3 linked regions of the Homo sapiens genome follow. The protein of the gene in region 2 purifies or fractionates together with the protein of the main gene of each other region. This does not show direct contact. Each region holds a gene or a part of one and is shown on either strand. Other genes may lie near its edges.

Region 1 (3,650 bases), on a different chromosome or scaffold from region 2:
ACTTTATATTTATCCAGTAAAAAGCTCTTTAATCACGATCCTTAAGAGAAGGTCTGTACCTAGTTTGGTCCTCAAAACATAATCTAACCAACTATTCTTAACAACTTAGATAACTACTAGATTTTTAGTATATGCTTCATACTAAAGACATGGCATAGTCAAACATTCCATAATTGACATACATTAAAGGAACCAGATAGTATAATTTCATATTTCAACTCTAATTTTAAGTTTCCTTTTTGGGTTGTGAATAAAAAGAACATTAGTAAGGGCCCCCTGATTAGAAGGCTAACTTTCCTCCTATTGGGATGGGAGAAGAAACTGTAAAGTTTAACCCTCTTTTAATATTTATGGTATGGAAATGTGAGTTCTCAGTGTGTGCTTTTTATGCAAAAGTTTCCTGATCAAAATGAGATAATTCTGGGAAGAAGAATGAAAGCTATAAAGGAAAACCCAAACACCAGACTTCTGCATAGATTTATAATGTTTGAATAAAGTACGGGTCATACATATTAATAACTCACCGTGATGCTATAAGAACGAAAATCCAAAGGGAGATAGTGCCGGGCAGCTGTCCCCACCTGAAATTAATGTTCTTTTCCTTACTCTGTCACTACCCATCCCTCAAGCCTCACTGTTCATCTGCTGCTTTTTATTTTATTTTATTTTGGAGGAAAAAAAGAGTGGGACAATGGCACCTATAATTCCAGCTTTCTGAGACCTATGGGTCTGATGTGAAATTAATGTTTCCTGCTATTCCAGGAAGAATTAAAGTTACCACTAGCAGGAAATTGGATACACTTGTTGTAAGAACTGGTCCTTACCAGCAAGCCAGAGTCTCAATGATTTCATTAAGGAAACTTAGTGGGGAAGAGAATTTTGTGGGCGGGGGGTGGGGGGAGGTGAGGGGAGCAAGTTCCATCGTCAGTCCACTTGGATTTCAGCAATTCAAACTGTAAAGATTACATTGTGAAGTCCACACAGTCTCAGCAGCACATCACAAACATATTTGCTAATATTGAAGCAGTTTTTAAGACTGCCAAACCATGTTTTGTATATTACTGCCTTTTCTTTAGTTATTAATTGTTAGATTTCTGACAATAATAAAATTGCATATATAGCAAGGGCAATAATGGGGAGGCTTAAGAGAGAGATGAAAGCAGTCTGATAGAAAATAACACTGCAGAGAGAGGAAACCAGAAACGCTGAGGCCAAGCAGCAATGGATATCTTTGACTACTAGCCCACAGTGCTGTATGTCACGTCTTTGGCCTCAGTTATTTGTAAGGCTATGCTGAAGAGTTCAAAAAAGAATAGGAAGCCTCCCTCAAATGCATGTTTATGCGAATTTGGTAATTAAGAGTATGATGTACATAGCAAGTTGTTTGGATAGAATGGTGGTATCTTGCACAATTCCAGAACTTCAAGTGCAGATGAAAGATATATCAATAGGGCCACAAATTCCCAGTACTGCACATGCTGGAAATTTGTGAGAGACCCTACAACTCTAATATCATGGCTCTGTGACCCTATGAGTCTAATAGTGCTCCCCGCCCCAATTCACCTGTGCTCCCAAAGCCGGAACAGGCTAAAACGTTTTCCCAGACAGCAATGTCTTCCAAGGCCGGTCCTTACTGTGTGATTCTTAGAGCAGAAGATTTTACCTGTACAAGTCACACTGTAGTTGCCCAGTTCCCCTTTAATCATTCACGATGATGGGACTCACTGTAAACCCTTTCATTATGTGCCACCGCTCTTGCAGGAAGCCTGGGTTTCTCAATTTATCCTCGTTTTAGGGCTCGGGTTCAGGGACAGCGTGGGTGAGACTAGCCACTATGGCAAAGGAAGTATATTTTCCCCCTTCAGACTGGGTTTTTCCTTTCTTTCTTTCTTTCTTTCTTTTTAGTAAAACTGCTGCAAAGTAAATCTTTCTCAGAAAGACAAGCATCTTTGGTGTCTTTTAAATCAAATTTTGGAGACTCAGCATAAAAAGGTAGCCACCAAAATGAAGAGCCACAAAAAAGGTGATGATATTTACACATCACCAACAAACTCATCTTTTTCCGAGAATCCAGTAGTAGCTTCCAACTTCTATCCTCTGTTACCGATGTTATGAGATTGTCTGACATATTTTCTTTTTTGCTGAACTGACCTTTCATCTATAATCTGCCAACCTTTATGTTTTATATGAAAAGTGTAAACAGGGCAGCTGACAAATCTCCTGTTACTTGACGGCATTTTCGTTGTTTTTTTTTTTCCAGACTAGATTAATTGGGAAGGCCCTGCAGTCAAGCTTCAAACTTCTTGGTATTCAAATAGCAACACTTTAAAATTGTCAGGCAAAGAGGTGCCTGCCTTTTTCCATTTTATTCAGATCATGCCAGCTAAGCTGACCTGCTTGTATAAAAAAAACCAAGGCCATATATATACTCTAACATGGAAAAAAAATCCTTGCTCTGAATGACCCAAAGAACTCTACCAGCCGGGCACGGTGGCTCACACCCGGAATCCCAGCACTTTGGGAGGTCAAGACAGGCAGATCACCTGAGGTCAGGAGTTTGAGACCAGCCTGGCCAATGTGATAAAACCCTATCTCTACTAAAAATACAAAAATTAGCCGGGTGTGGTAGCAGGAGAATTGCTTGAACCCCGGAGGTGCAGGTTGCTGTGAGCCGAGATTGAACCACTGTACTCCAGCCTGGGTGACAAGAGCAAAACTTGTCTCAAAAAAAAAAAAAAAAAGAACGCTACCAACCAACCAGTTTCATCGTTCCCAAGGCATGGTCTATGTTCTACTAATGGTACACAAGATTATTTTAGGTGAAATGGAAAGGAACCTTTGACAAAATGTCAAATAGTTTTGTATTTTAAAACTACTTTTAAGAATGCATTGTTTGGACAAATACAATATAAAAGTATAAGTAATGATATATAGCTTCCTTTTTTCTATCTTTATATGTAAAATAAGAGGTAATTTCAAGAAAATTACTGAGCAAATAGTAGAGGTAACTTACAGGGACAATAAAGTGACAATGGTAGGAAGTGAATTAATGAGATGTGGAAAACTTGCTCATCAGTTCAGGTTAGAGCTACAGAATGTAAGTGAGACCATAAAAGAGGCAGTTATTTGAGTTTTATCTATTCTGTATCTTCTGCACTTAGTGGTGTCACATAAGTAGATACTCATGAACTGAAAGTCAACAGGGTCCTCGCTGCTACTTGACGTTCTAAGTGCCCCACACTCCAGCCACTACCTCCCCAAAGCAGCCATCACAAAATTTGTCCAGGTTCCTCTCTAGCTCCCAGGCTCCAACTGAGCCCCTCTCCAGACATGCAAAATACCCTCTAACCACATGTGTACAGAAGGAGGGAGGTTCTCTTCACTTCTGCCTTTTCACTTTCCCATCACACCATCTGTTTGCATCTTCTTATCTTTCTAACAGAGGTTGAGCATCCTTTATCTGAAATGCTTGTGACCAGAATCATTTAGGATTTTGGATTTTTTCAGATTTTGGAATATTTGTGTTACACTGATTGAACATTCCAAATCCCAAAATCCAAAATCTGAAATGCTCCAATGAACATTTTCACTGAGTGTCATGTCAGTGCTCAAAATGTTTCAGATTTTGGAACACTTTGGATTTTGGATTC
Region 2 (3,750 bases):
CACCATACCAGGTTGTTAATTTTATTTTTGTAGAGATGGGATGTCATCTCTACAGCAATGTTGCCCAGGCTGGTCTCCATCTCTCGCCTTCAAGGGATCCTCCCTCCTCAGTCTCAAACTGGGATGACAGGTGTGAACCATTGAGCCCGGCCTCACCTTGACCTTCTGATCCAACAGAGTCTGAGGGAGCAGAGCCAGGGGCAGGTGTGACTTGATGAGCCGTGGGGGCGGTGTGTCTTTCAGAGTCTCCAGCCCTGAGTAGTGGGTCAGGGAAGGTCTGGTGAGCTGAAGCCCCAGCCCTGTCTTCCTCCACTTCCCTTACCCCCAGGACCCAGCCATGCACCTGAGGGTTCCCCTGGATCATTGACCTCAAGGAAGGGCACCCGTACGTAGATGGGAGCCCGGTTACACTTCTCTAGGTCGCCGCCCTGGTAGATCATGTCCAGTATCTGGCTCACCCAGGTGGTGCCTGGAGAGGGAGGGAGATAGGAGGTGAGCAGGCTGAGGGCACGACCTTGCTGACCAAGGTGGGGACTGCCGCCTGGGAGAGGGTGGGTGGCCCTCCTCACTTACCAGACTTGGGGTAGGTGTTGATGAGCAGGTCATCAGGTCGGGCTTGGAAGCTCTGCAGGGGCCCCAGTGCCTCTGCAAAGTACTTGATGAGCGGGACCCCCTTCACGTACTCCAGTGGCGGGCGGGAGGTGTCCTGGATCAGCTCCATGTTCCTGCATCAGGGGCCAGAGCCAGGCCCGTTCCCTTACCACCATCACAACAGCAAGAAAGTGGGATTCTCTCTTTTTTTTTTTTTTTTTGAGATGGAGTCTCACTCTCACCCAAGCTGGAGTGCAGTGTGGCACAATCTCAGCTCACTGCAAACTCCACCTCTTGGGTTCAAGCAATCCTCCCGCCTCGGCATCCCAAGTAGCTGGGATTACAAGCATGTACAACCATGCTCAGCTAATTTTTTTTTTTCTTTAGTAGAGATGGGGTTTCACCATGTTGGCCAGGCTGGTCTAGAACTCCTGGCCTCAAGTGATTTGTCTACCTCAGCCTCCCAAAGTGCTGGGATTACAGGTGTGAGCCAGCACCCAGCTGCCCCTTTGCAGAGTTTTTGCTTTCAGGGAAGTCACTGAGGCCTAGGGAGGCTGAGTGACTTGCCCGCACTCACAAAGTCAGTCAGTGGCGGGGCTGGGGCTGAAACCAGGTCGTTCCCCAGCCTGGCCGCACCTTTCAGTCACCTGCAGAGCTGTTCAAAATCCCAGGGCCTGGGGCATAGTGCAGACCAGTGAAAGCACCCTCGTAGCGCGGGGCCCAGATATCAGGGTGTGTGAAGGTCTCCAGGAGAGTCCAGCTGTGCTGAGGAAGCTCTAGGGCCTGCCTGTGCTGTCTCCCTGCCAGCCAGCGCCCTTTGTCTCACCATTTCCTGCTGGGACCCCCAGCCTCCACCCAGTGCGCTCCTCTCCCCGATGCTCCCCTCCTTGAGCCCCCCTCATGCCCCTCACATGTGGAAACCTCCCAGGCCGGCCAGGTCTGTGATCCACTTGCCTGGCCACAGTCCATCTGGGCTCCAGAACAAACACAGCCCATTGAGCAACTAAGCTGGTACCAGGGGCTAGAGCCTCGTGCGGGAATGAAAACTGATGACTCATCAAAAGGAGGGGCCCAGGCAGGGTGACTCCCGCCTGTAATCCCAGAGCCTTGGGAGGCCAACGGGAAAGGATCCCTTGAGCCCTGGAGTTTGAGACCAACCTGGACAACAAAGCAAGACCTCTCCTCTACAAAAAATATTTTTCAAAATTAGCTGGGTGTGGTGGCTTGCTCTTGTAACCCCAGCTACTCAGGAGGCTGAGGCGGCAGGATTGCCTCAGCCTAGGAATTTGAGGCTGCAGTGGGCCAGGATCCCACTACACTCCAGCCTGGGTGACGGAGCAACACCCTGTCTCAAAAATACACAAAGGAAAAGAAGGAACGCAGGGGGATTCCGGCCAGGCTGGGTTGTCTAATTGAAATGGAATATCCATGGGAAAGGGCAGGGATGGCAGAGGCCTCGGCTTCTAGAATGTTGGAGCCACAAGCTGAGCAGGGTGAAGGTGCCCTGGGCCATTCCAACGTGTCACTCACCTGAGCTCTCGGGAACCTGACCTGTTCTCTCCTTGCCTGCAGGGGCTGAGTATGGGTGTGGTGTAGGGAGTGTAGGGCTGCTCTCTGCCCTGAGGGTTTTGAAGGTCCAGTGTGGGAGGGATCTAAAGTCAGGGCTGGGAACTCCAGGAAGGAAGGGGTGGGGTTGAGGGTGGGGAAGCTTCTCTATTACCCTCCTTACCACCACAGCTCCAGCCAAGCTTGGAGTGATCTGCAAACCCAATATGTGAGTTTAGTGTATAGAAAACACATGAATGAAAGGCAAAAGGGGCCAACATTGGTATTTGGGTTTTTTTTTTTTTGAGCTGTCACTAGGCTCCTGACCTTCCCTCTGAACTCCACCCTGCAGGGCAGGCCAACAGACAAGCTTTCTTTCTTTCTTTTTCTTTTTTTTATATGAGATGGAGACTCGCTCTCTCGCCCAGGCTGCAATGCAGTAGCACGATCTCCGCTCACTGTAACCTCCCCCTCCTGGGTTCAAGCGATTCTTCTGCCTCAGCCTCCCGAGTAGCTGGGATTACAGGTGCACACCACCACATCCGGTTAATTTTTGTATTTTTAGTAGAGACGGGGTTTTGCCATGTTGGCCAGGCTGGTCTCAAACTCCTGAGCTCAGATGATCCGCCCGCCTCGGCCTCCCAAAGTGCTGAGATTACAGGCATGAGCCACCATGCCTGGCCGACAAGCTTTCTCTAATTGACCCAGGCAAGGGAGGTGAGTGAGTGGAGGGGAAAGGTGGGATAGGCCGGCCTGGGAAAAGTCACCTACCTGCTGGCTACAGGCCAGTCTTGAAGGCGGCAGGGGTTCTGGCCCAGTGCAGTCCACAGGCCCCCAGCAGCCCAGGCATTCCAGGCTCTGACCACAAGGCCAGTCTGGAGTGATGTGTGGGGGCAGAGTGAAGGGGCAGAAGTGGAGCAGAGCATGGACATATAGAACAAGAAAGAGGCTGAGCGTGGTGGCTCACGCCTGTAATCCCAGTACTTTGGGAGGTCGATGCAGCAGGATCACCTGAGGTCAGGAGTTCGAGACCAAGCTGGCCAACATGGTGAAACCCTGTCTCTACTAAAAATACAAAAATTAGCTGGGCATGATGGCGGGCACCTGTAATCCTAGCTACTCAGGAGGCTGAGGCAAGAGAATCACTTGAACCCAGGAGGCGGAGGTTTCAGTGAGCCAAGATCACACCACTGCACTCCAGCCTGGGCAACAGAGTGAGACTCTGTCTCAAAAAAAAAAAAAAAAAAAAAAAAAGAAAGAAAGAAAGAACAGAAAGAATAAGAAAGGACAAGGACACTGTAGTCCCATTGCCCTAGGAGCCAGCCCTAGCTTCATGGCTCCTGGGGGACCTCACAGAGCATCAATAGAAGATCCTAGAAGAAAAACAACCCTGGCAGGTGCTTTTCTTTCCCTGGGTTTGAAGGAGGCTCCGTAGACAAGAGACTAGAGGAGATTAAGACTTGGAAGCCACAGGGCCCCGTGGAAGGAGGGCATCCCCCCATCCTCCTTGGTCTTTGTCCTATTTGCATTCAATTTCAAGGTAAGTCTCCCAGGCTTCCAAGAATTGCATGAGCTCAGAGGCAAGTAGGGGAAAGCTGAGGCATGGGGTTTCCA
Region 3 (3,650 bases), on a different chromosome or scaffold from region 2:
TGTAAGATTTTTTTTTGCAATTTTTTTTGTTTTTTAGTTCATCAGCTATCGTTAGTGTATTTTATGTGTGCCCCAAGACAATTCTTCTTCCAATGTGGCCCAGGGAAGCCAAAAGATTGGACACCCCTGGTAAAGATAACACAAATTGTTCTAGAAAGCCCACGTTGAAAATGCCCCAATGCTCATCAAACTTAGCATAATAAAGTTACTCTGCCAGACATATGAACTCACAAAAAGAAGTAGCTCCATTATGAAAAATAGCTAAATAATCTATATGAAATGCTGTCTATCTAGAAAATAAATAAGAATTCAAGAACCTTCATGGTCTAAACCACAGTAACGTTCCCAATGAGATAAGAAAAAAGAGTCATGAATTAATACAGAAAAAAACATTTATAAATAAGAAAAAGAAGCAGGAAAATTAAAATAGAGAAAAAGTAGTGGAATGTGAGTATGTTGGGGAGCTGGAAGTCAAGACAAAACAGAGGGACTTAGAAATGAATTTGTTTTTTAAAGTAGATACTCATTATCCCCTAGCAATAAAGTATTATATTCCAAAAGACAAGAAGCAAAAAAACTCACACTGGTTTAGAAGTACATTGTGAACTACAACTTCGCAAGCTCCCAGAATGTCTCCCCATCGTCTCCCCTGCAGTCTTAACAACCTGTGAGAGGGTAGGGCTTCTGTGTGATCTGCCTGCCCAGCCCAGCCTGGTAAGCAGTGCCCTCTGACTGCTTGTGCCTTCGAAATACATCAGAGACTAGAATATTTAGAGTGATTCACATTAGTGCATACGGAGAAACAAAAGGACTGAGAGCTAAGGTCTGAGGTCAAGAGGCTGGCAACCCCTCCATGGCATGTGGAAGAAGCAGTAGTGAGAGGCAGCAGAGCTGACTCATTCAAAACAGAGGGGAGAAAACTTAGAACTCCAGTGAAGTGGAAGTGAAGGCAGAGGAAAGGGCTGCAGACAGAGGGGGAGCTGCAAATGCAGACATGCAGCACAAATGACACAGAAGCAGACAAGAGAAACAGGAAAGATTATACAGTAAATAATATTCTGAATGAAAATCTCATGCAGATTTCAGATCTCAGTAAAGTCTACAACTCAGTTGTTAGAGTGTCTTTCTGCACCTTTGGATTGTCGATAATGGGGGTGACAACAAGATCTGAGTCCGTGTAGATAAGCTCTCTCATCTGGGATTCCAGGTCCTGCTGACTCAGGTGTCCACTTGTAATCTGAAATGAGAACAAAAATTAGACTTTGTTTCTGCGACTAATGTAGATCTTTAAAACACTGAACCAGTAAGATGCTGAGGAAGACACCACTGTAAAATATCACCTATATCAATGTACTTCAACTGCTATTCAAGATGGTTGCAGTCTCATTTGATTTTCACAAAAATCCTAAACTGTAGGCACCATCATTCCCATTTTACAGATAAAAATATAAAACTCTGAGAAAGTAACTGAATTGCTCATGTTACCACTAAGTCTGGCTAGGACTAGAAAAAATATCTTTACAATTCAATGTTCTAAACTGTGATGAGGCAAATTGGTTTTTCCATAACAGCATGGCTTCTTTTTTTTTTTTTTTTTTTTTTTTTGAGGCGGAGTCTCGCTCTGTCCCCCAGGCTGGAGTACAGTAGCGTGATCTCGGCTCACTACAAGCTCTGCCTCCCGGGTTCACGCCATTCTCCTGCCTCAGCCTCCCGAGTAGCTGGGACTACAGGCGCCTGCCACTGTGCCTGGCTAATTTTTTTGTATTTTTAGTAGAAACAGGGTTTCACCGTGTTAGCCAGGATGGTCTCAATCTCCTGACCTCATGATCCACCTGCCTCGGCCTCCCAAAGTGCTGGGATTACAGGCGTGAGCCACCACGCCCAGCCTTTTTTTTTTTTTTTTTTTGAGATAGAGTCTCACTCCATCACACAGGCTGGAATGCAGTGGCACAATCTCAGCTCACCGCAACCTCTGCCTCCCGAGTTGAAGCAATTCTCCTGCTTCAGCCTCCCAAGTCGTGGAATTACTGGTGTATGCCACCATGCACTGCTAATTTCTGCATTTTTAGTAGAATCGGGGTTTCACCATGTTGGCCAGGCTGGTCTCGAACTCCTGGTCTCAGGTGATCCACCCAACTTGGCCTCCCAAAGTGCTGGGATTATAGGCGTGAGCCACGCGCCTGACCAACGGCTTTATTTTTCATTCACAGAATGTTAATCAATTTATTTCTGCTTTACAGAACATTCAATGTGAAATTGAAGCTGTAACATAAAAAAAATTTTCAGACTTAAATACAGACATGCTACCTAAGTATTAAACCTCAATTATTTATTAAGCCTAGTTAGAGTTGATACATAATGAAATGAATCAGCAGATATTCACCATCAGTTATTCCTTTGAGATGGTTCTTTGTGCTCTATTTAAACATAATTTGTATTCCTAGTGCTATGCCTCAGTATTTCCCAACAGGGAAAAAAAAAAGAGAGAGAGAATTTATGCTTAAGAACTTTAAAAGAAACAACGGCTAGCAAACTAAATAAAATAGAAAAGTAAATCAGTGAAGTAAGGAATAAGGAAAATAAATTACCCAAAACTGAGTGAGGAAGGGGCATGGATAAAGGAACAGAGGAGTTAGCTAAGAAAGTTCCTGGAAACCCAAGCTGCCCCATGCAACTCAGACAAAAGACAAGAAAACACAAAAAGAGGCCGGGTGCAGTGGCTTAGGCCTGTAATCCCAGCACTTTGGTAGGCCGAGGTGGGCACATCACGAGGTCAGGAGTTCGAGACCAGCCTGACCAACATGGTGAAACACCATCTCTACTAAAAATACAAAAATTAGCCAGGCATGGTGGCAGGCGCCTGTAATCCCAGCTACTTAGGGGGCTGAGGCAGGAGAATCGCTTGAACCTGGGAGGCGGAGGTTGCAGTGAGCCGAGATTGCGCCATCGCACACCAGCCTAGGTGACAAAGCGAGACTCCACCAAAAAAAAAAAAGAAAAAAAAAAAAAAGGCCCACAAAGAATGAAGAGGAAGTTTGTTTAAAACAAGAAAATCTAAGTTTAAGAACATGGACTTTCAATTAAAGAAAAAAAAAGATGGACTTTCATGGTAAAAAGACAGAGGTAAACTCACATTGCCAAAAAAAAGATGGACTTTAAAGGCAAAAAGACAGGGGCAAACTTAACATTGCTGCTTGTTAATTATGTGCTCTTAGGGAAGATAAAAAAAGCTTTGTTTTCTTCATCTATAACAAAGATTAAAACAAACAAGCTTTCAGGTTTGTGAAGAATAAACACAAAGCACTTAAAACAATGCCTGGCACTGCTTGAGAGAAGACAGTGATAGTTAATGAAGACACTTAAATATATACATCATACTTGCTTCAGTGGAGAATGGATGGAGGGGAGCAATGGAGAACTGAGGGGACCAGTTAGCAGGTTACTGCAAAGCCTGGATGGAAAGGATGGTGTCTTGAGTGAGGAAGGGGGCAGAAGGAAAGAAAAGAAGTCAATGATAGAGCAAAGGGCTGGATATCCCTGCTGATTTAACACTGAGGAGGAACTGCTAGTAAATTATATTGGTCCGTAAAGTAAGACATCAATATTTGAAAGAGGTGGCCAAATTATCTTTACGTATAGATAATATAACT

What was found.
Region 1: the proteins of SULT1A4 (region 2) and MPPED2 purify together in Homo sapiens (co-immunoprecipitation; one large-scale study listed by IntAct). This does not show direct contact.
Region 3: the proteins of SULT1A4 (region 2) and ULK4 fractionate together in Homo sapiens (co-fractionation; one large-scale study listed by BioGRID). This does not show direct contact.

The regions. Positions count from the first base shown.
Region 1 is NC_000011.10:30,495,824-30,499,473, forward strand, and holds part of MPPED2 (metallophosphoesterase MPPED2), read right to left. Parts: intron 1-3,650. UniProt on the Homo sapiens protein: Displays low metallophosphoesterase activity (in vitro). May play a role in the development of the nervous system.
Region 2 is NC_000016.10:29,458,357-29,462,106, reverse strand, and holds the start of SULT1A4 (sulfotransferase 1A4), read right to left. Parts: upstream 2,195-3,750; 5' UTR 2,122-2,194; intron 726-2,121; 5' UTR 722-725; coding exon 574-721; intron 470-573; coding exon 344-469; intron 255-343; coding exon 157-254; intron 1-156. UniProt on the Homo sapiens protein: Sulfotransferase that utilizes 3'-phospho-5'-adenylyl sulfate (PAPS) as sulfonate donor to catalyze the sulfate conjugation of phenolic monoamines (neurotransmitters such as dopamine, (R)-adrenaline/epinephrine, (R)-noradrenaline/norepinephrine and serotonin) and phenolic and catechol drugs.
Region 3 is NC_000003.12:41,899,593-41,903,242, forward strand, and holds part of ULK4 (serine/threonine-protein kinase ULK4), read right to left. Parts: intron 1,238-3,650; coding exon 1,133-1,237; intron 1-1,132. UniProt on the Homo sapiens protein: May be involved in the remodeling of cytoskeletal components, such as alpha-tubulin, and in this way regulates neurite branching and elongation, as well as cell motility.